2 separate regions of the Homo sapiens genome follow, and region 1 is linked to region 2. The links come from fine-mapping of genetic effects on gene expression. A gene starts in region 2. The other region holds a variant in brackets. All regions are shown on one strand. Distances are from middle to middle.

Region 1 (15,388 bases), 19 kb before region 2:
AGGCCGAGGCGGGCAGATCATGAGGTCAGGAGATCAAGACCATCCTGGCTAACAAGGTGAAACTCTGTCTCTACTAAAAATACAAAAAGTTAGCTGGGCGTGGTGGTGGGCGCCTGTAGTCCCAGCTACTCAGGAGGCTGAGGTGGGAGAACGGCGTGAACCCAGGAGGTGGAGCTTGCAGTGAGCCGAGATCGCGCCATTGCCCCCCAGCCTGGGCGACAGAGCGAGACTCTGTCTCAAAAAAAAAAATTTTTTTTTAATTAGCCAGGTGTGGTGGTGAGTGCCTGTATCCTAGCTACTCAGGAGGCTGAGGTGGGAGGATCACTTGAGCTTGGGAGGTAGAGGCTGCAGTGAGCCATGATCACTCCACTGTACTCCAGCCTGAGTGACAGAGTGAGACCCTATCTCAAAAGAAAAAGAAAAAGAGGCCAGGCACGGTGGCTCACACCTGTAATCCCAGCACTTTGGGAGGCAAAGGCAGGGGGATCATAAGGTCAGGAGTTCGAGACCAGCCACAGTCAACATGGCGAAACCCCATCTCTACTAAAAATACAAAAAAATTGGCCAGGCACGGTGGCTCACGCCTGTAATCCCAGCACTTTGGGAGGCCGAGGCAGGTGGATCACGAGGTCAGGAGATTGAGACCACAGTGAAACCCCGTCTCTACTAAAAATACAAAAACTTAGCCGGGCGTGGTGGCGGGCGCCTGTAGTCCCAGCTACTTGGGAGGCTGAGGCAGGAAAATGGCGTGAACCCGGGAGGCGGAGCTTGCAGTGAGCTGAGATCGCGCCACTGCACTCCAGCCTCAGTGACAGAGCAAGACTCCGTCTCAAAAAAAAAAAAAAAAAAAATATTAGCCAGGCGTGGTGGTGGGGCACTGGTAATCCCAGCTACTTGGGAGGCCGAGGTAAGAGAATCGCTTGAACCTGGGAGTCGAAGGTTGCAGCAAGCTGAGATCGTGCCACTGCACTCCAGTCTGGGCGACAGTGCAGGAGTTTGTCTCAAAAAAAAAAAAAAAGAAAAAAAGAAAAAAAAAGAAAAAGACTAGTTCTTCCCAGCATTGCACTAGGAAATTCAGGCTGGGTGCTGGAAGCGGCCATGGTGACAGTGAATATTGCACCTGGAAATCAGCTCCCGCACCCCTGCCCTGGAGTCCGCTGAGGCCTGGATTGGGAAGAGATAGGACCGAGAGGCCCAGGGGCCCTCCCTGCTTCCCCACCAGGCTTCAGCCCCTCAGCCAGGCCCTGCTGATGCCTCTGCTCTCCCTTGCCTGGGTGTGGTGTGTGGTGATGAAATTGGTGGAGGCTGAGCCCCAGATCCTATTATCCCCTCCAGGGTGTGACAAGTGTCTGTGACTGGCCCTGCTGGGACCTCCCCCAACTGGATCCTGAAGACAGGGGGTGCTCCTGAACCCATTCCGTATTCTTGACCCCCCTCTGGGCAGCGGGATCCTTCAGACCAGATTCCATGGAGGCCCTAAGCTGTGCCCCGTGGCAGAGTGGCCCTGATACCTCCCAAAGAAGAGTGACAGCAAGTGGTGTCACATAGACCTGCCTCAATGCTCGTCTACACCTGCCCCTTCAGGGTGGGGCAAAACAAGGCTCTGCAGACAGCAAGTGGGGACATGCCCTGAGAGGCTGTGCTGCTTGGCTGAGGTGGTGGCTGGCAGCACTGGTCATGCAGAGCCTTGGTGGCACCATGGACTCAGCCCACAGCTGGCTCGGACTCCTGGATCCGGTGGCTTCTGGGGTCTGGGCAGGTGGTGGGAGGTTCGGGGGGCACCTGGAGCTAAGTACCTGTACACTGGCTGTGGGGAGCTGCAGGGCAGGACAGGGTTCCCACACACCCTTTTCCCAAACAGGTGCCTCCCTCCGACACCCACACTGCGTCTACTGTTTTCCAGGAAAAGGCCGATGCACTCGTTGAGTCAGCAGATCGAGGCTGCTGTCACCCTGGCAGCTCCACAGGGTGAGCCTGTTGCTCGCAGGGCCCAGCAGGGCCTGCCCAGGAGTCCCAGAGCTGGCCGGGCTCCCGTTACCTGCCCTGTACCATTGTTCCTGCCTGGCGCTTGGCTCTGCCTCTCTGGCTGTCCTCTCCTTCTCCACCCTCTGGCCTAAACATTACCTTATGCCCAAACCCAGCCTCTCTCCAGTTCCACAAATGTCAAACTGGCTCATCCCTGGGGGTAGGAATCAGCAAGAGAAGACCTGGATTGGAATTCCAGGACCACACTGACTGGCTGTGTGGCCTTGGGCAAGTTCCTTTACCTCTCTGAGCCTCCGTTTCTTCATCAATGAGAGGCAAGTTGTCCTCCCACCATGTCATGCTGTTGAAAGGAATCAAGTGCCCAGCGCAGTGCCCGGCCTGCAGGACGTGCTCAAGAAATGGCTTTTGCAGAACACGACAGAGTCTTCCCCAGCGGGACCTGTTCTCCCAGGGCCTGTGGGGAAGGAAATGGCGGGATCTTCTGCTCAGCCATCTTACATTAATCAGCATGCAGTCATCATGTTCACACCAGCTCTAATTGTTAGCTGCTGAAATGGGCTCGAGCTTTGGGGCTCTCACCTCAGCCAGCCCGGGGCTCCAGGCTTGGGCGGAGCTGGTGCATGGAGCAGGTCTGGGGCTCCTGGCATGAATGAAGCCTGAAATGTGGACAGGTGCAGTCGGGATGTGGGAGAACCCAGCCTTGGGCAAGTCCCTTTACCTTTACTCAAAGAGGGGAGTGGGTGAGGCTGCCCGGGGTGGGGGGCACTGGCCGGGCACCTGCAGGTGGGGAGGCCTGGCCATCTCTGGAGCAGCTCCGGTGATGAACTCTGGTCAAAGAACTCGTCCTAGAGGGTTTGTCCCACACCTGCTTCTGGTCTTAGCACGTGACCCCTGCTCCAGATAGGTCCTTCTTGTTTGTTTTGGGCTTGAGAGGAATTAATGAAATTGTTAGGGTAATTGGCAGCACGGCGGGCACCATCCAAGACTGGCAAAGGGGGGCTGGGAGGACCGAGAGGAGAGAGCCGGGCACACGGGGATTGCTTAACAGATGACGGTGAAGAGGGAGGGGTGTGTAAGTGGCGGATGGCATGTAGGAGCGAATCAGTGAATGAACAGTGAGTGAGTGAGTGACTCAATGAACGCGTAAGCTGGAACCTCAGTAATAGCATTGGCCAACACTCATGTAGTTCTCACTACATGTGCAACGTCGTTCTAAGCACTTCACTTGTAAAACTCATTCAGTCCTCTCAAAAACCCTGTGAAGGAGGCACTATGATTACCTCTGTATTTTTTTTTTTTTTTTTTGAGTCTCACTCTGTTGCCCAGGCTGGAGTGCAGTGGCGAGATGTCAGCTCACTGCAACCTCCGCCTCCCGGGTTCAAGCAATTCTCGTGCCTTAGCCTCCCGAGTAGCTGGGATTACAGGTGCCTGCCCCCGACACCCGGCTGATTTTTGTGTTTTTAGTAGAGACAGGGTTTCACCATGTTGGGCAGGCTGGTCTTGAACTCCTGACCTCAAGTGATTCGTCTGCCTTGGCCTCCCAAAGTGCTGGGATTACAGGCGTGAGCCACCACGCCCGGCCGATGACTACACTTTACAGAGAAGGGACCAGAGGCACAGAGAGGTTAAGTAACTTGTCCAAAGTTACACAGCTGGGAAGTGACTGAGTTCAGACTAGAACCCCGGCAGGCTGGCTCCGTAGTCTCCAGGTACCAAGCACCTTCAGGATCATGAAGAGAGTTCAGAGCAGAGGGGATAGGAGGATGGACTCTTCTTTTGCAGTCTCGGCCTTGAGACTCCAGGCTTCATGTCATTCAGTCTGTCATTCATTCATGCTGCATAGTCGCTGGTCAGCCGCTTACTCACTCATGCACTCACTGAGCGCCGGCTCTGGGAGTGTGAAGGGGGGAGACTTGTAAGATTCTGTCCTCCCCGGTCCTAGTTTACCTTTCAGGGCTCAGTTCAATGCCACCTCCTCCAGGAAGGCCACAGGGCTCTAGGCTTCCCCTGATCTCCCCAGCTAGGCAGTGCTTATATTCTCAGTTTTTGGAATACCATGGGTGCTCAATAAATGCTTGAGGCGGCATCCTGTTGCTGCTGAGCCTTCTCCTGGGGTCTCGTGGCTTTCCCAGCTCTTTGTCCCTTCCTGTCCTCACCCCAGCCAGGATGCTCCCGTATCTGGACAGAGCCTGGATCCCCCCACACCTCCCATGACCTTCCCATCCCACCAGCGGAGTGGAAACTCCCCGAGCACTGGGTCCAGCCGGGGGCCATGGTCAGCAGCACTGGGATTCACCCCTGCCCTGAAAGGGAGGGACCTGGGCCCGCCCGGGCTCAGCAGCCAACAGCAGCCTCTTCCTTCCCTGGCGAAGTGTTTGTTTTCAAATTCCTGAGGCCTGTGTCACCCCCAACCCTGTGTCCGCTGGCCCAGGCTGCCTCTGCTTCCTTCCTCCCCTTGCCGGACCAGGCTGATCTGTGGGGTGGGGTGCTGGGCCAAGCCTCTCCCTCCCATTGCCCACCAGCTAGGGCCAGAGCCTCGAGCTGGCTGACTGGAGAGCTCCAGAGGTTGGTAGGACATGGGATAAGGGAACTCAGGACCCCTCATCCCAGCCCCTCTGGATAGAGCAGGGAAATTCCAAGTCTTTTTGCTCTTCAGGGAACAGTGCAGGCTGGCAAAGAATCATGGGCTGGTAGCCGGAAGTAGCTATCTTCATCCCAGCTATCTTCTGGGTTAGCTGGGATGGGGAAGTTCTGAGCAGGGCACATGCCCCTAAGCAGGCCTGGTCTGGGCCCAGAAGGCCTGGTGCAGGTCAGACTTCATTCAAGCTCTCTTCCTGGCCGGGAGTCTTTTTTTTTTTTTGAGACGGAGTCCCGCTCTGTTGCCCAGGATGCAGTGCAGCGGCGCGATCTCGGCTCACTGCAACCTCCACCTCCTGGGATTACAGGCGCCCACCACCACACCTAGCTAATTTTTGTATTTTTAGTAGAGACGGGGTTTCACTCTGTAGGCCCGGCTGGTCTCGAACTCCTGACCTCAAGTGATCTGCCCGCCTTGGCCTCCCAAAAGAGCTGGGATTACAGGCATAAGACTTTGCATCCAGCCAGCGCTGGGAGTCTTGAACAACTAGGGCAGTGGGGTGGGTTTCAAACTTGACCTCATGTGCATCAGAATCAGCTGGGGTGTGTGGTGAACGGGCAGACGCCCAAGCCCTGGCCTCGGAGATTCTGATTCAGTGGGTCTGGGATCCCAGGGATCTGAAGTTTTGGCTTCCCAGGTGATTCTGCTGCCAGAGGCCCAAACTGTGGAAAGCCAACACTCAAGAACGTGAATAACACACAGCCAGGCCCAGCTCTCCCACTCACATGCTGCTGACCTTTTAGAGCTGCACTGGCCAGTTCGGTAGGTACTATTTAAATCTAGAGGCCGGGCGCAGTAGCTCATGCCTGTAATCCCAGCATTTTGGGATCCAAGGTGGGTGGATCTCTTGAGGTCAGGAGTTCGAGACCAGACTAGGCAACATGGTGAAACCCCATCTCTACAAAAAGCACGCAAAAAATTAGCTGGGTGTGGTGGTGTACACCTGTAGTCCTGGCTACTCAGGAGGCTGAGGTAGGAGGCTGGCTTGAGCCCAGAAGGCAGAGGTTGCAGTGAGCTGTGATTGCGCCACCGTACTCCAGCCTGAGTGACAGAGCGAGACTCTGTCTCAAATAAACAAATAATTAATTTAAATTAATTAAAATGAAATAAAATTAAAGTCAGCTCTTCAGGTGCACCAGACGCATCTCAAGTGCTCAGTAGCCGCGTGCGGCCAGTGCGGAGCAGATGTAAAACGTTTCTATCCATTCATCATTCCATCCACAGCAAGTTCTTCTAGACTGCTGTTCTCCAATGTCAGTTTCACAGAGGCAGAGACCTTTGTCTGCTGTGTTCATTGCTATATCCACAGCATCTGACTCATGCCTAAAACACAACAGGGGACCAGTAAATCTTTTTTTTTTTTTTTTTTGAGATGGAGTCTCACTCTGTCACCCACCCAGTCTAGAGTGCAATGGCACAATCTCGGCTCACTGCAACCTCCACCTCCCGGGCTCAAGTGATTCTCCTGCCTTACCCTCCCGAGTAGCTGCACCACGGTGTGCAGCACCACGCCTGACTAATTTTTGTATTTTTAGTAGAGACGGGGTTTCACCATGTTGGCCAGGCTGGTCTCGAACTCCTGACCTCAAGTGATCTGCCTGCCTCAGCCTCCCAAAGTGCTGGGATTATAGGTGTGAGCCACCATGTCCGGCCCAGTAAATCTTTTTCATTTGTGTTTTTATGGTGGTAACATATATGTAACATAAAATCGACCATGTTAAGCGTTTGGAAGTGTACAGGTCGGTGGCATTAAGTGCATTCACATTGCTGTGCAACTTTTCGCCACCGTCCATCTGCAGAACTTTTTCATCATCCCAAACTGAAACTCTACTCAACAAAAGTTCCCCATCAATCAATGTTTTCTGAACAAATGAATAACCTTGGCTGGGCGCGGGGCTTACGCCTGTAATCACAGCACTTTGGGAGGCCGAGGAGGGCGGATCACCTGAAGTCACGAGTTTGAGACCAGCCAGGCCAACATGTTGAAACCTTGTCTCTATTAAAAAAAAGTACAAAAATTAGCCAGGCGTGGTGGTGGGCGCCTGTAATCCCAGCTACTCAGGAGGCTGAGGCAGGAGAATCACTTGAACTCAGAAGGTGGAGGTTGCAGTGAGCCAAGATTGCACCACTGCACCCCAGCCTGGGCGACAAGAGTGAGACTCTGTCTAAAAAAATAAAATAATAATAATAATAATAATAAAAAAAAAACCTTGGTCAAATCACTTCCACTCTCTGGGCTTCTGGGCTTCAGGTTCTTCATTTACAAAACGGGTAGCACATGCGTTCCCACCCGGCAAGTTCTTTGCAAGGATTAAATAAGATGAAGCATGTGTTTAGCACAAGCCCTGGCACACAGCAAGTGCTCATCAAATATTAGCTGTTCCTGTGTTATTATTACCTCATCAGGAAGTCTTCCCTGAACATTCCACACCTCCTTGTTTTCTAAACTCTGCAAGACTAGAGCGCACCTCATTCAAGGCAACAGAAACAGAGTCCGCTGCTGCCGGTGTGAATCACGTGGGCGCGTTCTGTCTCCAGGGCGTGAACTGTTGCTGGTCCTTTGTGTGTCAGCTAGCCTAGTTCCTCAGCTAGCCAAGGTTCCCCAGCCCCGATATCCCGCAACAACCCCCTGAGATGGGGAAAGGAGTTGGAAGGAACCCTTATGTGGGTGCCATTGTACAGATGGGAACGCTGAGGCCCATGGTACCGAGGAAGCCAGTGCCAGAGCCAGGACTCAAAGCAGGCATCCCGACTCCAGTATCCTTCAAAAACACCACCCAGCACAGGGGAGCCGCTAACTGAAGGAATGGGTGGATGGATGAATTAAAGTAGTCAGGCTGAAGGGCCCCATTTTGCAGCTTTGAAGAAACAGGCTCAGGGAGGTTAAGTGAGGCGCTGGGTAAATATTTATGGAATTGATCATACGTGGTCAGAGGGCAGGGCACGCTAGCCAGGGGCTCTGAACCTGTAGTACC[T/C]TTAATCCCTGCCCCCAAGGGACAATCAGGACAGTTTCTTGCCCTGGACAGGAAGTTGTCATGATGGGGTAGAAAGAGACGCTAACTCTTGGCCTCGTGAGGGAAGGAAGGCATTTCTTTGGCTTTGGTGTCAGACAGGCTCAGATCCATCACAGGTCCTGAGACACAGGAGGAGTCTTGCTAAGCTCTTAAACTTTCTAAGCTCCAGACCCTTCTGAGACGCTATAAATGCTGTGGCCTCCAGCCAGTGGTGAGCTGGTAAATGTTTAACAACCTGCTTTCTAAAAGGAAAAGAGAAAAAAAAATGAAAAGGGTAAAAAGAAGGCCAGGTGTGGTGGCTCACGCCTGTAATCCCAGCACTTTGGGAGGCTGAGGCAGGTGGATCACTTGAGGTCAGGAGTTCGAGACCAGACTGGCCAACATGGTGTAACCCCGTCTCTACTAAAAATAAAAAAAATCAGTCAGGCATGGTGGTGGGCACCTGTAATCCCAGGTACTTGGGAGGCTGAGGCATGAGAATTGCTTGAACCCGGGAGGCTGAGGTTGCAGTGAGCCGAGATTGAACCACTGCACTCCAGCCTGGGCGACAGAGTGAGACTCTGTCTCAAAAAAAAAAAAAAAAAAAAGGAAAAAGAAGAGTGTCACTGCTGATTGCTGTGGTGTAAATACTCCCACTACAGTTGACTTCAAGCAACCAATGAAACTTGGCTTGCAAAATGCATGAAAATGGAACAATCTACTCTCCCTGAGCCTGCAAGAGCCAACTGGGCGAGCACACCACTCAGTGTAAACTCAGGCAAATGCTTCCTCTTTCTGTGCCTCATTTTCCCTATCTGTAAAGTGGGTGGTAATGGCTGCTACCTTCAAGGCTCTTATAAGGAGTCATTTCCATGTTCCAAACTAGAGGTGGCAGGATCTTCAGGGACTGGTGAGGACAGGAGAAGGTCACATTTTGCAGCCCTTGGAGGTGTGTCAGGGGATGGCAGAAATAGGGCTGGTGCCTCACCCTTCATAGGCTCCTGGGAGCATGTCTTTCTTTCCCTACCAGCAGAGGTGACCATGTGGCTCCCTGCCCTTCTCTTTGGGCCACTTTCAGAAGCCAGGCAGTGGGGAGGTCGGAGTAGCCAGGTGCTGGTGACAGAGTTTGCCCAAATCTGGAAAGACAGTCTCCCGTGTCCCCACCTTACTAATCCCGCACACTTACCCTGACTTTACTCCTGGGGCTGTGGGAGACAGGGGTGGAATGGGCCCCTGACACGCAGGCAGCCCCTCCTATCCCTGCATGAATCCTGGCATGACCCCGGACACCCAAGAAAGTGCACCTTTGACAATGGTGCACCAGGTCATGGTGGCACCTCTCCCCTTGGTGGTGGCATCTGGGGCCCTTGCACACAGGGGACAAGGAACCTGAAGTGAAGGGGAGTTGACCTATTGAGGCCACACTGAGGACAGTCCCTCTCACTTTGGGAGAGGAGATGGCACTCCTGGTCTGATGTTCCAGAATTCCTCTCCATGGAAGGAGAGGAGAACACCATAACATATTAGAGCAGAGAGGGGATCCGCGGCAAAGGCAAGGCTTCTGTTACAAAGATGGGGAAACTGAGGCCAGCCAGTGGAAAAGTCATATTCACAGTCACACAAGGACTCAGACGTCGAGCTAGGACCTGGGCCCAGTGCATGGGTGGCCAGTCTCTCTTCTGTATCTCCTGACCTTGTGATCTGCCCACCTCGGCCTCCCAAAGTGCTAGGATTACAGGCATGAGCCACTGTGCCTGCGAGTCTCTCTTCTCTCTTCTCTACTGCCTGGCAGAAGGGGCTGAAAGGTGGGGGCCCAAAAGCTTGTCTGTCCTGGGGGAGGGGTGACCAGCCAAGGCAGGACATTTTCCAGGGGGACCCTTGTGCTGGGTGACCACCTTAGGGGAGGGCACATCACTTCCTAGGAAGCAGACCACCCCTCTGAAAGACGCAGGGACCTGAGAAGTGTGGTGACTGTGGGTTTGGGGGTGTCAGTAATGTCACTTGGGAGTGGGGGACCTGGGTCGGCCTGGCTTTGCCCCTAACCCTCCGTGCGGTGTTGAGCAGGCCATGGTCCCCTCCTCGGCGCCAGTCTCTGGCTGTAGATGGGTGGTTTGGGCCAGACCAGTGTTTTAAAACTTGTCTCAAGCTGCAGAATTATTTTCTAGATGCTTAGTAGAGAAAACAGACACAGGAAGGGCAGATGCAGGGGCAGTGGGAGCTTGGAGGAGGAGGATGGAGGAGGATGGAGCATTTGGGTCCTGGAGCCTCCGCTGCTAGACACCCCCTCCCTCCCCTGGAGCGGCAGACCCCCGACATAGGGCCGTGGCACGCCTGGGGATTTTATGGCAGGGGCCCAGGCCACACCCCGAGGGAGGAAGTCTGGTACCTCTCCTGACTCCTGAAAGCTGCGGAAAAAGAAATAGAGAAAGAGACAGAGAAATCAAGAGATAGGAAAACAAAGAAAGAATGAGAGAGAGAGAGAGAGAGACAGAGGCAGGGACAAATAGAGGAAGACAGAGAGAAAAACAGAGAAAGGGAGGTACAAAAAAGAGAAATATTCCATGATGAGATGGAGAGAGATAGGGAGAGAGGGAAGGGGGAGAAAAAAGAAACACATGTTTCCACTCAAAGTTCTTTTTTGTTTAAAATAAAACCAACCCAACAATCTCTGCTGCTGACAGTTGGCCGGAGCCCAGGCCCCAGGCGGAGTGTGACCGCGGGCCTCCTGGCACCCGGCCTGGAAACTCAAGTCATCACCGCCTGGGCTTTGCTCTCCGCAGCCTCTGACACGGTGACTTGTCCCCAGACACTGGCTCAGGTCTGAGGGTCACAGGAGAGACCCCCGCACAGGCAGGGCCCCTGAAGCCTCTCCCAGGTCCCCTGAGGCTCCTACCCACTACGGGAGCCTTTTAGCAATTCTAGGCTGGGAGCAACCAGCCACCATGAGGCCCGAAGCAGAGGGCCAGGCAGGGAACTGTGGCCAGGAGGAGGGCCTGCCTGAGCAGCGACAGGAGCAAGCTCGGCTTTAATTTGAGACCTAATCAGCGGGGGCTGGCATCCACCCCCCCTCCCCAACCAGTTGCGGAGGCCCCTCCGTTCCTGCTCTGGAGAGACACATCCCGGCCCCTGCTGCCCCAGGCCCAGGGCCCCTGAGGTGGGGACTGTGGAGGGTGGGATGGGAGGAAGAGCAGGCCCACAGGAGTCATAGGCCTTGCCTCCCAGCACACCTGCCAGGCCCGCACCGAGCCCCATCCCACCCCCTCCCACCCCCTCACATATATTTTACACTCAGTCCCAAGATTTGTTCTGGCCTAAGCCCCACATACCCAGGCAAGAAAGAAGCTGGTCTAATAGCAGCTGCAATTGTAGAGCACACAGGGCCCCAGGGCCTGCCGCGTGCTGAGTGCATCATCTCATTCAAGCATCCCGCATCCCGAGCGACTCTAATGTCCACTTTACAGATCATGAAACTGAGGCTCCGAGGGCTTAAAACACTTGCCCAAGTCTCATGATGAGTAGAAGGTGGGATCTGAACCCAGGTTTGCTCGCCCACCATAGCTCCACACCCGGAGGTAGTGGGGAGCTTCTGGGGTATGGGGCCAGCCCCGGCACCCCAGGGCCCATGGAGGGAGTGCGGCCCACCCCTCAGGCCCAGGCTTCCGTCCCTTCCGGAGCTGAGAGAGGCAGGCCTGAGAACAGCTGATCCCCCGGGTTTTGTTCTTGGCACAAAGGCGCCCGGATCCAGGCTTAGCAGTGAATGGCGAGGGGCCCACAGCCCCCTCCCTCGGGCAGGCCTGGCAGGCTCAGCCCCTGCCTGCTTCCCCGCAGCCCATGAGCCCTCAGCTTCCTATTCAGAACCCCGGCTCGGCCACCCACAGGAGTATCAAAGGCTGGCAGATCTGTGGGGATTAAAGGAGGCAGTGAGGGGCTGAGAGCTGGGGGCACGCATATGTGACTCCCCTTTTCCGAGAACCTACTATGTGCTGGGTAGATAATAATGGGAAAGACCAGAGAGGGGAGGGGACTCGCCCAAGGTCACACAGCAAGTCAGACAGAATCAGGGTGCAAATCCAGATGGCCCTGCTCCCAGCCAAGGCCTGTTTTCATCAGACAAGTTTCTTCTGTGCTTGGGACACCCCTGTCCTGTGGCCTCTTCCTGGGATGAAGAGACAGAGAGAAAAAGACAAAGGCAGACAGAGAGAGGAGAACCTGGCCAGGCCAACACAGAGGGAGGGAGGATTCCCTGGGGGAGGCTCCTCCCCTGACTGCCTGATGGGGTTGCTGAGGGCCAGGGCTGGAAGGATGCAGGTCCTGGCCTCCCTCCCTGCCCCATCCCCCGTAAATGCCTGGTTGGCTTGAGGGGCAGAGGACGGGCAGGGTTCCCCACTTGGATGGAGCTCCAGGAAGTGGGGAGACGGAGCCCCGAGCAGGAGAACTGTGGAGCCTCCTGCACCAGGTCTGGCCCTGGCTGGTGGGAGTAGAATCTGGGAGTCCTCACCGACCTGGGGTGCAGACTTGCCCAGGGGATGGGAGAGTGCGGGTCTGGCTAGTGAGGCTCTGGGTGGATGGAGAGGAGGGCAGGCATGATGGGCACTCAGCCCCTGGGGCCTATACCTGCTGTGTGGCCTAGGGGAGGTGCAACTGCCTCTCTGGGCTTCAGCCCCATTCTAGGGCCCAGAGCCAGAAGACCCCCTGATTCTATTACAGGGGTGAGGGTCTGCTTCACGGAATCCTCACGGTGAGGCAGGCTGATGCTGAGCCCCAGACGGGCGCACTCTCGTTCAGTCCTCCCCATAAGCCCACCAGAAGGCTACCGCTATTCTCCCTTCACCTTACAGGTGAGGAAACTGAGGCTCAGAGAGGCCTTGTTCAAGTCACATGGCTGGTACAGATTTCAAAGCCTCATGACCTCACTCCATCCCCCTGCCCCAGGACACTGGGCCCTGACTCCTGGCTCCCTTCTACCTGTGGCAAGGTAACAGAGGCAGGTGTCTACCTGCCCCCCACCTGCCCCCCAGTCACAGGCACGGTGCCACGGCACCCCCCAGGAATGTTGCTGCATTCCTGTGGCAGGGGTGTGGTTGCCGTGGCTCTGTTTGCCCGAGGCCTGGGCTGTTCCTAAAGCAAGCCCTATCCCCAGGCGCTGAGTCAGCAGGCTGGGCAGCTCTGGCACTCCCAGCAGAGCCCGACCCTCACCAGGAAGGTGGTGGCAGGACCAGAGGAGGAAGCTCCATTTCCCATGAAGGAGGGAGGGGTGCCTGGGGCAGGAGTGGGACAAAGGCTGGGAGTAGTGGGGGAAGTCAGGCCCAGGGGTCCAGAGAGGGGAAGGGAGATCCCCCAGAGAAGCTGGGGAGCTGAGTGAGGATTTCAGACCTGAAGGAAGGCGACTGCTTCGCTGAGCACTGTCTGTGTGCCAGTCCCTGTGTCGCTGCTTTGTCCAGCCGCCTTATCTCATATAATAAAACTGACTCACTCTCCTCAGCCTCTGTCTTTCATAAGGGGAACCTGAGGTGTGGTTAGTTCTTCCGCAAAAGAAGGACACAGACAGGCCTGTGACGCTCAGAAAGGCGCTGTATGCCCCAGTGGGAATGGTGGGGACGCAACTCCCCCACCCCTCCTCTGCCAGGCCGGCTCTATGAGCCTGGACTCCTGCTCTGGGCCTCAGTTTCCAAGCTCTGCTGGGGTTGGCCGAGAGGAAGAGGCCCCGTGAACTCCTCCTCAGGGCTGATACCCTTCAAGTGACCTCGGCTGGCCTCACCCACTCGGGGCCAGACATTGATCTCCTAGCAATCCGAAGGTGGAGGGTGCCTCCATGCTCAGATTCCTTTTTCTTTTTTTTTTTTTTTTTTTTTGAGATGGAGTCTTGCTGTTGTTGGCCCCAGCTGGAGTGCAATGGCGTGATCCTGGCTCACTGCAACCTCCACCTCCCGGGTTCCAGCAATTCTCCTGCCTCAGCCTCCCGAGTAGCTGGGATTACAGGCGCCCACCACCACGTCCAGCTAATTTTTGTGTTTTTAGTAGAGACGGGGTTTCACCATGTTGGCTAGGCTGCTCTCGATCTCCTGACCTCATGATCTGCCTGCCTTGGCCTCCCAAAGTGCTGAGATTACAAGGGTGAGCCACCATGCCCAACCAGATTCCTTTTTCATTATGGGCCATGCCCTTGGCCTGCCGCCCTCACTCCACTCCATCCCCTGCCACTTAGAGATGCCGAGGCATAAGGCAAAGAAAGGCACACCCCAGGAGAAACAGTAGGGTGGAGGGCCCAGGGCCAGGAGGGGCTAGGGACGGAGGGGGCCTGGGTTGTTGGCCTCCTGGTGCCAGCTCTGCTCCCTTCTGGGTCTTCCCAGGAACGGAATAGGCAGGTTTGGGGCACTGGATGCCAGGTTGGGAAGACGGGTGGAGCCGGGTGGGGCATGGGGGTCAGGAGGCTGGGAGTTTCGATGGCGGGTTTTGGCGGTTTTTGATAAGAGAACCAAGGGGTGGTCAGAGTCCGTGGGAGACAGGGCTGAATGGGGTGGGGTGGGAGGGGGCAGTGATCCAATTCCTGGCCAGCCAAGCGCTTCTGCCCCACTGTCCAGGGCCTCTGCCCAAGTCTCAGGACCAGCTGCTCCCGGCCGTGGCTGCCCTTGCAGGTTTACAGTGGGGGAGACTCCAATAGATGACATGGATCTGGGGACTCGGGGCTGAGAGGCAGTGTCTGTTGTGCTAATGCCCCTCCCTCGGAGACATTCACCGTAGAGCTGCTGGACTGAGCTGAGGTCCCAGTCTGATGGGGGAAGGTCACCTCTGCCCCGGGAATATCCCACAGCCTCTGCCCTCAGGGAGCTCCTAGTCTGATAGCAGAGGCCTGGCCTCTGTCCTGCTGAAGCCTCCACTCTCATGGGGAAGCCACAGCCTCTGCCCTCTGAGGAGGGGACATATACTCCATTTCCGGAAGAGCCCTCCAGTCTGCTAGAGGAGTCACCACCTCTTATCTTCGGGAAGTTTGTGATCTGAAGGCAGAGGCGGGCAGACGTAGCACTGACTCGCAGGGCTGCCCAGGGCCTGGGCCCTTCACCTGCTGGGCCTGCTGAGGCCAACTTGGAGGTGAGGAAGGCAGGGCAGGGCAGGGCCCAGAGATCCCTACTCCTCCCAGGGATCAGCCTAGGGTCAGGCTTGGGCGAGGTCTGGCCCGGCTGCCCTGACTGGGGGGTGGTCTCTGCAGACGGGCCCCGAGGCACATTCTCAAGCTATGGCATGAGGCAGTTCTGCTGGGCAAAACAGTTATTACCGCCCGTCGCTGGCGAGACAGGGAGGGTCTATTACAGGGTTGGAGCTGCAGGCAGCCCCCCCCCCTTCACTCCACCCCACCCACCATGCACACACACCTGCACACACACACCCCCATGGGCAGACTCACTAGTTGCATGATTTTCAACGAATCCCTTCACTTCCCCATGCCTCAGTTTCTTCATCTGTAAAAGGAGGATAATAACACGGGCTTGCCTGGACACGTGACACCTGTGTATGCCAGGGCCTCCGTCCCCTACCCAGTTCCATTGCTCAGGACATACACACTGTCAGACGTGGACACATATACGACCCTGAACATTCACCTGGGAACTCACATGCAATGTGCACCCATGTCCTGGCTTGCACGCCTTCACCCAAGTGCACACACACCTGTATAAGAAGTTAGAGGGGCTGGGGGTGGCGGCTCCTGCCTGTCATCCCACCACTTAGAGATGCCGAGGCAGAAGGATTGTTTGAGCCCAGGATTTCGAGACCA
Region 2 (13,006 bases):
TGGCAGAAGTGATGGGCAGGGCTGGGTAGGGATAGACTGCTCACTGCAGGGCTAGCTACAGGCAGGCGACAGACAGATGGACCCATGTGTGGACGGACGGATGGAGGGGGAACGGAGGGAGTGAGCAGGGGCCCACTGGGACTGGTTGATGAAGATGGATGGACAGACAGAGGGAAACAGGGCAGGAAGGGGAATGGGAATGGGGGAGGGAAGACCATGTCCTGTCCCGAGGTGGTCCCTACAGAGCCCCTGAGACCTGGCCATTAGGAAAGTGTATGCAAGTTTGCCTGGAAAGGTGTGTGTGTGTGTGTGTGTGTGTGCACAGGCATCTGTGAGAGCTCTGGCGTGGCTGTGTTCCTGGCACTTCCTGGTGTGTGTGTAGCCTTGTGAGGGCCCAGGCCTGGTGATGGGCGTGGAAATAGGGGCCCGGAGGAGTGTAAGCTCTCTCCTCTTCCCTCAGGGGCTGAGGGCATCCTGGTGGGTTTATCCAGGGAGCATGGCAGCCAGGGAGCCTGGGACAGATTTCTGGTGAATGGGGGACTTGTGTGTTAGTGCCTGCAGGGAGGGGAAGGGGCTAGAGTCAGACTGGGAAGTTCTCAGAGACAGAAAACAAACAGAGGGGCTTCCCTGACCCCTTCCTCCTTTCCTCCTTTCCTCCTTTCCTCCCTTCTTCCTTCCAAGCCTCCACGCAGGCCTGCAGCCAAACTGTCAGGACTCAGGAAGGGGGTGACACCTGGCAGGTACTCTGCCAGCCTGGGGCCCCCAAATATGGTGTCAATGATAAAAATAATCCTAGCTGACATTTACGGAGTACTTGCCATGTGCCAGGCACGTTGCCAGGTTTTTCAGGATCCCATGTCTTCCCACAAGGTGGGTATTGTTTTATTTTTATCCCCACTTGACCCGGAAGAAGAGCTCAGGGCAGTGAAGCACCTCATCCGAAACTCCCAGTAAGTGGTGGCCGTGGGAAGCCAGAAATTTGCCCTCGGCCCCTGGCGAACAACAACTTGATCTTCCTCTGCACATCTGCCCAGGGGACACGGGTTGTCAGGCTGACCCTCAGAACACAGTGCAAGGAGGAGAGGAGGGTAAGAGAAAAGATGGCAGTGATGTCCAGAGGCCACATGGTTAGCTGAGTGGCATCAGGGCCTTTAGAGCCCAACGGCTTGGATTCAGAGGCTGACTTTGCCACTTCCTTGTGCAACGTCGAGCAGGTCACTTCACTTGTGTAAGCCTCAGTTTCCTTGTCTGTGAAATGGGGAGTGTGCTGCTCACAGAGGCTATTGGGAGGATAAAATAAGATAATACAGGAAAAGTACCTGGCAGGTTGGAAGGCCCCAGGGTCACAGAGGAGGATCCTGGGAGTCAGGTAAGGGCACTTCCTGGGGGCCCCTGGGCACCAGTCGCCCCACCTTCTGCAGAAGCGGGAATCCCCCATTTGTCATTGTCTCTGGATTGTATCCTGGGCTTCTGGGCATGACGTCATGCTCTGTGCTTGGCAAATAGTAACTTGTGCCATCGTCATACTGCTCTAAGAGGCCGAGCTACTGTCATCTCTCAATGCACTGATGAGGAGAGGGAGGGAAAGACAGCAGTGACTAGCCTAGATCACGCAGTGTAAGCTTTCATCACTGGTCAGCTGGGAAGCCACTATGTTTATTTGCTCATTCATTTAACAAATTTGTAGGACAGACTAGGGGGTGGGGACGGTTCATGACTCACAGAGCAGCAGCAACCCCGGCCCTTCTCCTGGAGCTCACACACGAATGGGGGTGGTGTGAGCAGGGGGAGACAGACAATAGACAAACGAACGGTAATCTCTGGAGTGTGGCAGCTGGTGGTGGTAATTGCTATGGAGAAAAATACAGCAAGGAAGGGGGACAGGGAGTCCAGAGGTGGAGTGGGGTGAGAGGCTGCTATATTTTATTTTATTTTATTTTATTTTATATTTTATTTTATTTTATTTTATTTTATTTTATTTATTTTATTTTATTTTATTTTGAGACAGAGTCGCTGGGATTACAGGCATGCTCCACCACGCCCGGCTAATTTTGTATTTTTAGTAGAGATGTGGTTTCTCCACGTTGGTCAGGCTGGTCTCGAACTCCCAACCTCAGGTGATCTGCCTGCTTTGGCCTCCCAAAGTGCTGGGATTACAGACGTGAGCCACCGCACCTGGCCTGAGGCTGCTATTTTAAATACGGTGGTTAGGACATGTGGCAGACATGAGCTGAACTTCAAACAGAGATCTGAAGGAGGCGAGGGAGCCAGCCCTGAAAATTTGGGGGCAGGGGCACAAACTGATCCAGGCAGAGGGGACAGTACGTGTAAGAGCACTGAGGCAGGCCTGGCCTATTTTTCAAAAAAAATTTTTTTTTTGAGATGGAGTTTCGCTCTTGTTGCCCAGGCTGGAGTGCAATGGTGCGATCTCGGCTCACTGGAGTGCAATGGCGCGATCTCAGCTCACTGCAAACTCTGCCTCCCGGGTTCAAGCTATTCTCCTGCCTCAGCCTCCTTGAGTAGCTGGGATTACAGGTGCACGCCACCTCGCCTGGCTAATTATTTTTAGTAGAGACGGGGTTTCACCATGTTGGCCAGACTGGTCTCGAGCTCCTAACTTCAGGTGATCTGCCCCCCTCAGCCTCCCAAAGTGCTGGGATTACAGGCATGAGCCACCGCGCCCAGCTGGCTATTTCTATTACTTCAAATTTACTTATCCCAAAGGTCGTGAGGAAGCACCTTCCATTCAGCTGACAGCCTTTGGGTCTGCAATGGAGGAGCGATGGGCTATCTTTTTCTTTTTTTCTTTCTTCTTTTTTTTTTTTTGGAGATGGAGCTTCGCTCTTGTTATTGCCCAGGCAAGAGTGCAATGACGCTATCTCGGCTCACTGCAACCTCCACCTCCCAGGTTCAAGAGATTCCCCTGCCTCAGCCTCCAGAGTAGCTAGGATTACAGACATGCGCCACCATGCGCGGCTAATTTCGTATTTTCAGTAGAGACGGAGTTTCTCTAGTTTGGTCAAGCTGGTCTCGAACTCCTGACTGCAGGTGATCCGCCCGCCTAGGCCTCCCAAAGTGCTGGGATTACAGGCGTGAGCTCCCGCGCCCGGCCCCCTTTTTCTTTATTTTATTTTTATTTTTTCACACACATCCCGTAGGATGAGATGCTTTTTGATTTTTTAAAAGACACCTAGTTGAAGACTGGCACTCAGAGGCCGGAGAAAAGCCTGTGGTTCCGATGGTTAGGGAAAGGCTTTGGGGGTCGAAGCTGAGTTGGGAGAGAGGAGGATGTGGCCGAATGGGGAAGGCAAGGCCGAGCAGAATGAGGGGCGCCCTCAGGGAGTCGGGGATGTTGGAAGGGGGCTGTAAATACAGGCGGGAGGTGGGCGGAACCCGCCCAAGCTACCGGGTGGCCGCCTCCCCAGTGCGGACCCAGGCTGAGGCCCCGCCCTGCCCGGAGGCTCCGCCCGCATCCAGGCCCCGCGGGCAGGATCTACCAAGAACCCACATCAAAGGCTCCCAGGAAGCGCGAGCGAGCCCCAAAGGAAGTGGCGCAGCCTCTAATCCAGCTCTGGGGGTGGGGGAAGCCCCGCAATTATTGGGGGGCTTCCTCCCGCGCTACCCCCTTTAAAACCCGGGAGCCCACATTTAAGTCTCCCCACCCCCACCTCAAATTGCCTCCTTGTTGGGGGTGAGGCTGTGTTCAGTAAAACTATTATTCAGACGAGTTTCACCCCAAAACCTCACCTGAACAGCTGAACAGTCTCTCTTTGCGGCTGCACCTGGGGAGTGTGTTCTTTTGAAAAAGATGGGGCCCTAGTTACCGCATGTTTGTGCAACACACACGTTTACTGGGCACCACTGTATGCCCGGCACCATGGGGGACGGCAAGATGGAATAAAACCGGGTCTCTGTCCTTCAGGGAGCCCCCTGCCTAAAGAGGAGGGAGTGAGAGCTGGGGTTTGTCCCGGGAGGAATTATTTATTTGGCCTGGGGGAGCCCTGTCTATTCTTCAGAAGTGACTTTTGATTGATTGTAAAGGTAGCAATAGCTAAGATTCAATGCGCATTGACTGTGTGCCCAGCACTGAGCAAAGGGCATTAGATACATGATGATCTCACTGAGTCCCAGCAGCAGCCCTGAAGGGTGGAAACCAGGATTATTGCACCCGCATGGCTCCACCAAGGCCACACAGTGGGTTACATGGAAGAATCCAGGTCTGCTGGACCCAGTGTTCATTCATTCACCAAATCTGTGTTGGGCGCACACTATAGACCAGGCACTCTCCTACCCTTTGGCAATCCGTTCTCCTGTGTTATGTATGCCAAGGCAGGTCTAGTAGGAGCTGCCCAGATGGAAGGGGCATCCAGGGAGAGGGCACAGCTGGGACAAAGGCATGAAAGTCCAGGAAGTGTTCAAAAAAGAGCAGGTCTACTCGGCTCTGGGGTAGACACACTTAACTTTTTAGTTCCACCTCTGCCATGTACCAGCTGTGTAATTTTAGTCATTTCTTCTCTCTGAGCCTCACGTTGTTTCTGCAAAAATGGAGGCAATATTAGCTTTTCCTTCCAGGGCTAGAGAGGATTAAATGAGTTTACAGAGGTGAAGTGGCCTGGCATAGAGCAGGCCTTCAAGAAATGTGGATTGAAATGAACAGAGGGGTCTGGGTGTGGTGGCTCACGCCTGTAATCCCAGCACTTTGGGAGGGTGATGGAGACCATCCTGGCTAACATGCTGAAACCCCGTCTCTACTAAAAATACAAAAATCTGGGCGTGGTGCCGCGTGCCTGTAGTCCCAGCTACTCGGGAGGCTGAGGCAGGAGAATCACTTGAACCCAGGAGGTGGAGGTTGCAGTGAGCCGAGATCGAACCTCTGCACTCCAGCCTGGCAACAGAAGGAGACTCTGTCTAAAAAATAAATAAATAAAAAATAAAAAAAAGAAATGAATGGAGGGGGCTGGGCGTGCTGGCTCACGCCTGTAATCCCAGCACTTTGGGAGGCCGAGGTGGGAGGATCACTTGAGGTCAGAGGTTCAAGACCAGCCTGGCCAACGTGGTGAAACCCCATCTCCACTAAAAAATACAAAAATGAACTGTGCATGGTGGTGTGTGCCTGTAATCCCAGCAACTAGGGAAGCTGAGGCAGGAGAATCCCTTGAACCCGGGAGGTGGAGGTTGCAGTGAGCCGAGGTTGCGCCACTGCATTCCAGCCTCGGTGACAGAGCAAGACTCCGTCTAAAAAAAAAGGAAATGAATGGAGGAAACTAATTTAGAATGTCACCATCAAATGTGAGCATCTAAGGCCAAGCACAGTGGCTTACGCCTGTAATCCCAGCACTTTAGGAGGCCGAGGAGGGCGGATCATGAGGTCAGGAGTTCAAGACCAGCCTGACCAACATGGTGAAACCCTGTCTCTACTAAAAATACAAAAATTAGCCAGGTGTGGTGGCGTGCACCTGTAATCCCAGATACTCAGGAGGCTGAGGCAGGAGAATCACTTGAACCCGGGAGGTGGAGGTTGCAGTGAGCTGAGATTGCGCCACTGCACTCCAGCCTGGGGGACAGAGCAAGACTCTGTCTCAAAAAAAAAAAAAAAAAAAAAATTAGCATCTATTGAGCAGAATGTGTGGGGAACTGTTCTACCTGTTGCTGGATTCATACCCTGCCTCTGAGGGATTTACAGTCTAGTTGAGAAGATAGTTCAGAGGCTTTGAAAAACAAAAAAGAGTTCAGTTGGTTGAGAGCAGGGTGCTGGTAGGCATGTAGCATGGAGGCCCCTGGGGCTCTAGGGGGGGCCTGATCCCTGGGGGTTTCACCCAAGAGGTAGTAATTAGACTGACCTTAAAGATCCCAGCTGCGGAGAGTTGGCACATTCCAGGACGGGGCACTGCTCTCCAGGTTCAGTGGAATTCAGAGGCAATGGTTGAGGCAGGTACCCATGAGAGTGCGCGCTGGATCTAGCCTGTCTGGGCCAGAATGCCAGCTCCAAATTTTACTTCCAAATTTGCTCTTCTGCAAAATGTGGGCAGGAGCAGTGGCCACCTCCCTGAAGGTGTCATGAGAACTAAGTGGATCAGTACAGATAAGTGCCTAGAACTGGGCCCGGCACATAGTAGTGCTTCATAAGTATTGGCTACAGTTTTTTTCTTTGCTTTTCTTTTTTTAAAAAAATTTTGTTTTGAAACAGGGTCTCACTTGGTTGCCTAGGCTGGAGTGCAGTGGTGCAATCACGGCTCATTGCAGCCTTGACCTCCTAGGCTCAAGCAATCCTCCTTCCTCAGCCGCCCGAGTAGCTGAGGCCACGGGTGCTCACCACCATGCCCAGCTAATTTTTTTTCTTTTTTCTTTTGTAGAGATGGGGTCTCACTGTATTGCCCAGGCCGCATTATTTTTTTTCTGATGCTCTTGGCCAAAGGCAGGCACAGATCAAAGGTGGGGTAAGTGAGGCCATGGCTTCAGCATTCACCTTTGTCATCTCCTTGCCCCCAGTACCCAGCCCCAGCTAAGTCCTAGCAAAGGTGGGCCCCTAAGCAGGCTGGTGGGCCGGAGGCAGGGATTGGCAGGAGAGGCAGTCACACACAAACACACACTCACTCGGGCTCCACCTGCCTGTACAGGAGCCTTGTCTGCTGCAGTGGCGCTGAGGCCCTGAGGGCTCCTTGGGGCCTTTATGGGGTAATTCCATCTCCATTAGGGCTGATTATGTCACTATAAATACCGCGTTTTGGTGCCGCTTTATAAGACTCACTGAAGAACTTTCCTCCTTAGCACCCAGTCACCTAGAGCGGGAAAGACTCTGAGTCGGACAGGAAAAGAGGGAAGGGTGTGTCATTAAATGGGTGACTAAAAGCCAGGGAAAAGCCAGGTGGAACACCCTCTTGCCACCACCTGACATACCACTCCTTTCCATAGGCCTCTGTTCACGTCACATGCTGCAGATGAGCAACACCCTGCCCTATGCTCTCAGCCCCCAACTTGTGCACATACTGCTGGGCACACGCCCCACAGCCATCAGGGCCTGCCTGCACCCCTGCCGTGTGTGTGCTTGGATTCAACCTTTTGAGGCCACACATGGAAACCCACACTTGCCACCAGAAGGACCAACCAACACTACACACAGAGACTTTCACGCAACACAGAACTCGCAACACTGTCATTCACTCATTAGTTCATTCATTCAGCGGAGGCTTGCTGAATATCTAGTATGTATCAGGCACTGTCTGTTTTCTTTTTTTGTTTTTGGCTCTCGCTCTGTCACCCAGGCTGGAGTGCAGTGCCGCGGTCTCGGCTCACTGCAACCTCCACCTCCTGGGTTCAAGCGACTTTCCTGCCTCCAACTCGAGCAGCTGGGATTACGGGCATGCGCCACCACGCCCGGCTAATTTTTGTATTTTTAGTAGAGACGGGGTTTCACCATGATGACAAGCTTGGTCTCAAACTCCTGACCTCAAGTGATCTATCTGCCTCGGCCTCCCAAAGTGCTGGGATTACAGGCGTGAGCCACCGCGCCTGGCCCAGGCACTGTCTGTTTTCTACAAACATCCCTGTCCTCCTGCAGTGTGTCCTCTAGTGACACATCTGACAGATGGAGCCTGCAAGTGGCATGTAACACACATGTACAAGCAGTGGCTTCCACACAACTCACATGGAGTCTTACACACGCCAGTGTCCCTAGCCCAGAGGCTCCAATACAACATGCAAAACACTTATCCAAACCACGTACTACACACATGCTCACACTCATCCACACACCCCATGTGCCTGTCCACAGAGCCCTGGGCACAACACATGCCCTGCTCTCCACGGATGTGGCTTCCTGTTGCTGAACCGCATGTAACCCAGTAACAGCTGAGATTTCATGCGTGCTTTCTGTAGTCCTGGCCCCTGTGGTTTACATGCATGACTTTATTTGATCTTTACAGTAACTCTCCTAAATAGGCTTTACATCTTTCCAGGAGCAAACTGAGGCTCAGAAAAGTGAAATAACTTGTTCAGAAACTCATGGGCTGACTCCACATCTACTGTGAAGTATGGCACACTCACAAATACATGCATACACAAATCCACACTCACATGCACTCATACACAAATCTCTCACACCCACATGCACACTCATACACACATCTAGACACATCCACACAATCCACAAAAACACACACAGACACACACTCATACCCAAATCCTCTCATGCCCATGCACACACACTTATACACACATATACCAACACTTTTTTCTTTTTTTTTTTGAGACAGAGTCTTGCTGGCCCAGGCTGGAGTGCAGTGAGTGGCGCAATCTCGGCTCACTGCAATCTCTGCCTCTGGGGTTCAAGTGATTCTCCTGCCTTAGCCTCCTTAGTAGATGGGATTACAGGTGAGTGGCACCACGCCCAGCTAATTTTTTTGTATTTTTAGTAGAGACGGGGTTTCACCATGTTGGCCAGGCATGTCTGGAGCTCCTGACCTCAAATGATCTGCCTGCCTCGGCCTCCCAAAGTGCTGGAATTACAGGCCTGAGCCACCCTGCCCAGTCACATACAACACTTATGTCCATACACACACTCACACACAGTCATACATACATCAACACTCTCATGTCTATACACACGAATGCACATTCAACAAAATCTCACACCCTCATACACATGCACTTATTCTCACAGGCACTTGCACACTCACAGGCTCTCAGAGGACCAAGGCTCTCCTCCCATCCTCTTGGTCAAAGGCTTTAATTATCCCCAACGCCTGTAATTAACCCTTCCTCTCTTCCTGCAGGAGAGATGTCTGGACCCGCTTCCCAAGAGTAGGCACCAAGGCGAGAGGCCAAGATGTCCACATCCGGCAGAGAAGACCCACGTACCTGGGTAGCAGGTCCCGGGCATCAAAGCGAGGATGGGGTCAGAGAGGAAGAGGTAGGCAAAGGGAGTCTGGGGCCTCCCAGGAAATCAGGCCTGCCACAGTTGCTCTTCCTGGACTGGTCAAATGGTGATTGGCCAACAGGCAGCCGTGGGTGGCTGGGCAGGCGGGCCAGAGCAAATTTCCCGTTTGTTTCACTCACACTAGCCGCTTCTGTCAGGAAGGGAGATGAGCTCATGTCTGAGGAAGTTTTGTGAAGAGGCCTTATCAAGGGGCAGGTGGTAGGCAGGTGTCCTCCAAACTGTCAAAACCTATCAACCCATGCCAGGGTCGGGGGCCAGGGGTGCCCCTTGCCCCCTTCCCCAAAAAGAAGCAGTGGTTCAAGCAGAGACCACCAGGATTCAAATCCTGCTTCTACTACCCGTGAGCTGTGCACCCTTTGGGCATGTTGTTTCTGCTCTTGGAGCCTCAGTCTCCTCTTCTGTAACATGGGGATGATGACCCCTGCCTCCCAGATGAGAATTATTAATAAATAAGATAGTGCATGTCTGATCCATTCCCAGAGGAAATGAACCTATTCTCAGATCATAGTAGGCTTATAGGCTTCTGAACAGAGATACTCTTTTTGACCATCAGCAGCTTGATATACTCTTCAAGGGTTTTAGGAAGGAGGGCATCCAGGTCTATTTCTGGGCCACTCTCTCAGGCCTGCTGCTTAGGAGGCAACTGCTTATTGGACCCCCAATCCATTTCAGCTCAGACCTTCAGGCCAGCGTTGAGCTCAGTCGCATTGAGCTCAGTCTCAGAGGTGAAGGGCAGAATGGGTATGGCTCAGCGCAAAACCATTAAACGTTTCCACCGAGGATACCAGGCTCAGAGATCCCTGGGGGCTAATCCGTAGGGGCGCTGGCGCTTTGAGACGCTCAAACTTTGGAAGGCCTGCGGGGAGCCCGCGAGTCCAGAGGGCCCCAAGGTCCTCCTCCAAACCCCTCCGGACTTCCCCTCCCTCTCCTCCGGGTGCCAGCCCGGCCCCTTTAAAGACATTCCTGAGGGCGGGCGTTGGTGACGTCACGCAGGGCATGAATGAACAGGAGTCGGTTCTCACCCAACTTCCATTAAGGACTCGGGGCAGGAGGGGCAGAAGTTGCGCGCAGGCCGGCGGGCGGGAGCGGACACCGAGGCCGGCGTGCAGGCGTGCGGGTGTGCGGGAGCCGGGCTCGGGGGGATCGGACCGAGAGCGAGAAGCGCGGCATGGAGCTCCAGGCAGCCCGCGCCTGCTTCGCCCTGCTGTGGGGCTGTGCGCTGGCCGCGGCCGCGGCGGCGCAGGGCAAGGAAGGTGAGTGCGCGCGGCGTCTGGACCCCTGGCCCCCGGGCCCCAGTGCCCCCTAGAGCCCGGCGCTCCTTGACGCGCGCAACTTTGGAACCTACCTGGTGTCGCCCAGTCCCGGCGAACTGGAGTCCGGAGGGCGCACGGGCTGCGATCGAGGCGAGCCCTGGCCCCCACCCGGGGTCATAGGGGCTCCGGAGAATAAGCGGTTTCAGCTTGGTCGCACGGGCCTCGGAGGCTGCGGAGAAGAGGACGCGGCGCAGGCCACGCGGTTGCAGTCCAGGCGGCGACTTCGGGAACGCGTCCCGGCGGGGGGCGTGGGGAGTCCCCTAGAGAAGGGGGTGTTTGGGCAGCTTTCCGCGGGCTCAGCTTCTTAGTGACCTGAATTCACTAACCCGCTTGCCGAGGTTTTGCGGAGAAGGCATACTGTGCAGGCCTCGCATTTTGGGGAGGGGGCTCGGGCGGGCGGGAGCCCCCTGTCGAAGCCCCTGTTCCCTGAGATTTTCTCCACGCCCCCCTTCACCTCCAGTCCCGGGGGAGAGCGTGGAGATAGGTTCGGGCCAATCCCTGCTCACACACTCCTTTCCCTCCTTCCCAAGCCGCACTCCCGGGCTCCCGGGGCAGGTTAGGGGCCGCGAGTGCGGACAGGAAGTCCCAAAGTCAAGCGTTCTGAGCAAGGGTGACTCAGAACGAGGAAATGCGGCAGGTGGGGGTGCGGCCTCCCAAGGTGTGGAGCTGTCAGCCCAGGGCCACCAGGGAGTCAGGACACCCGGGGGTGGGGGACTGAATCACCCACCCCCGCCCCAGTGTTCCCGGAGCCGCGCCGAGTGAGGGGCCGCAGACTTTGCTCATGGCGCAGCGGGTGCGTGGTGGGGGTGTTGTCCCTCCGCTAGGGTCAGGGCGAGGATGGGGGCTCCTGCCCTGGCCGAAGACCTTCCTGTCCACCCAGCCCAGGCCAGCTTCAATTTCCAACAGTGAGGGCAAGGCTTCCCCTCCTGCCTGGGCAGAGCGAGGTTTCCGCAGGCTCCACAAGGGGGAAGCCGGGAGGAAACTTGGGCCGGTGAGAAGTTTCCTTCTTTTTTTTTTTTTTTTTTTTTTTTGAGACGGAGTTTCGCACTTGTTGCCCAGACTGGAGTGCAATGGCGCAATCTCGGCTCACTGCAACCTCTGCCTCCCGGGTTCAAGCTATTCTCCTGTCTCAAGCCTCCCTAGTAGCTGGGATTACAGGTGCCCGCCACCAGGCGCGTCTAATTTTTGCATCTTTTAGTGGAGACGAGGTTTCACCATGTTGGCCAGGCTGATTCTGAACTCCTGACCTCAGGTGATCCACCCGCCGCGGCCTCCCAAAGTGCTGCGATTACAGGCATGAGCCACCACCCCCGGCCTGTTTCCTTCTTTTTCTGCCTCCCAAACTGGGTTTGGAGGTTTTGCTGTTCTGTGTTGGGAGGAAAAGAGGCCGGATCTGGAGCCGTTGGGCAGTGGCAGGTGTTGGGGGTGGCATCCTGTCTCAGTCTCTGGAGTGACAGGGCCCGGGTTGGGGTCTCAACCGGGACTTCTGGTTGCAGGAGCTCATGGCAAGGATTTCTGCCACCCTCAATATCCGCCCCACCAACGTTTGGTCCTCCCCCTTCCTGGGGGACTGTGGTTGGAGAGAAGGGGAGAGACAGCTGGAATCACTATAGGCCTTTCTCCTCGGCTGCCCATGGGGGGGTGGGGGATTAGGCGGGTGCTTTGCTGCTGCAGTCCCCAAGCTGGCCTGGAAGCCTGGAGCTGCCTTGTCCTTGTCCCCTGTGTCCACCTCTCCCCAGCCTGTGTGATTAAACCCCACCCCCACACCCCATGGGATGCAGGGGGAAAGGCTTGTGTATTGCACTGGGGTGGGGGTACATTTTTGCTTCGACTCTGAGTCCCCGTGAAAGAGTCCCTAGAGAAGTGTGCCTAGGTGGGGGTGGGCATGATGGCCTAGCTGGCAGCTGCTGGTTTCAGTTCCTGGGAATCAGGCTGTATGTGGTGGGTCTGCCTGGGGGTGGCTTAGGGGGCAGGCAGGAGGACACAGGTGCCTTTTTCACCTACCCCCAGGCTGCTTCAGACTTCTTTCTTGCCCCCTCACCCCTAGGCTATACTTGGTTGCCCACGTGGCTCCTGTTAGGTCATCAACAGCCACTGAATCTGCCCTCATTTTTACAAATGGGGAAACTGAGGGAGGCCCGAGCCCTTGCCAACCAGGGCCTTCTGGACAGAGGACCAGACCTGAGCATCCCGCTTCTTGGCTGCCAGAGCCAAGGCCCTGCCTGCTTTGTGGTTGGTGTCATGGTAGATTTTCCTGGGAAGCAGGCATAGCTGGGCAGGGGCCTGGGCGGGTGGCAGGGGGTGCTGAGCTGGGGTGCTGCTGATGGGAAGAGGGCTGGAGAGTGCCAGGAAGTCCTTGGTTTCTGGTTCTACCGGGGCCAAGTCTGCCCTCTGTCCCCTTTCCCTTTTCTTTCATGTTTTCCCCAGAGTCCCCACCTCCCTGCTTCCTTTAGGGATTAGCTAGTCTTGGTTAGAGAGGAATGGGGGAAGCGGGGAGGGAACCACAGCCTCGGAGGCTGCGGAGAAGGACCGGAGACCGGGAGTGGGTGGCAGTCCTGCATTTGTGGAAGAAGCTGTGGAGCAATGTGGACCCACAAAGATGGCACTTACGGTGGAACTCATGGCAAAGAAGGAGGTGTTTTTTGCTTTTTTTTTTTCCCCCCAGAAATGGGAAGGTAAGGGGATAGAGAGCTCATGGATAAGCCCTGCTTAGCCTAAGCCTCTCCAGGAAGCCGTCTGGGTCAGCCGAGGGGCTCCC

Which allele goes with the higher level. Positions count from the first base shown, and alleles are read on the strand shown. Sizes are in standard deviations (SD) of each study's normalised expression.
In carriers of allele T in region 1, the expression in liver of the gene that starts at base 9,967 in region 2 tends to be higher than with C alone (small effect, 0.39 SD a copy in GTEx).

Evidence for each region. PIP is the estimated chance that this variant, and not a neighbour inherited with it, causes the effect.
Region 1: its variant is the best candidate, but not a certain one, in a credible set for the expression of EPHA2 in liver (GTEx, PIP 0.54).

The regions. Positions count from the first base shown.
Region 1 is chr1:16,171,037-16,186,424 of GRCh38, reverse strand. No RefSeq gene overlaps it. Among named protein-coding and RNA genes, the nearest start is that of EPHA2, 23 kb to the right of the region's middle. RefSeq lists enhancers at 1,134-1,633, 1,634-2,135, 2,226-2,725, 3,553-4,533 and a silencer at 10,197-10,491. The variant T/C (reference allele first, on the strand shown) is at 7,600.
Region 2 is chr1:16,153,030-16,166,035 of GRCh38, reverse strand. It overlaps EPHA2 (EPH receptor A2), which reads left to right and starts at 9,967. Exons shown (of 17, transcript NM_004431.5): 1 at 9,967-10,188. The coding sequence starts at 10,104. It overlaps EPHA2-AS1 (EPHA2 antisense RNA 1), which reads right to left and starts at 10,821. Exons shown (of 3, transcript NR_187275.1): 1 at 10,281-10,821; 2 at 8,857-9,065; 3 at 1-1,280. RefSeq lists enhancers at 1-926, 1,879-2,406, 2,407-2,934, 2,935-3,462, 3,308-3,602 and 2 more.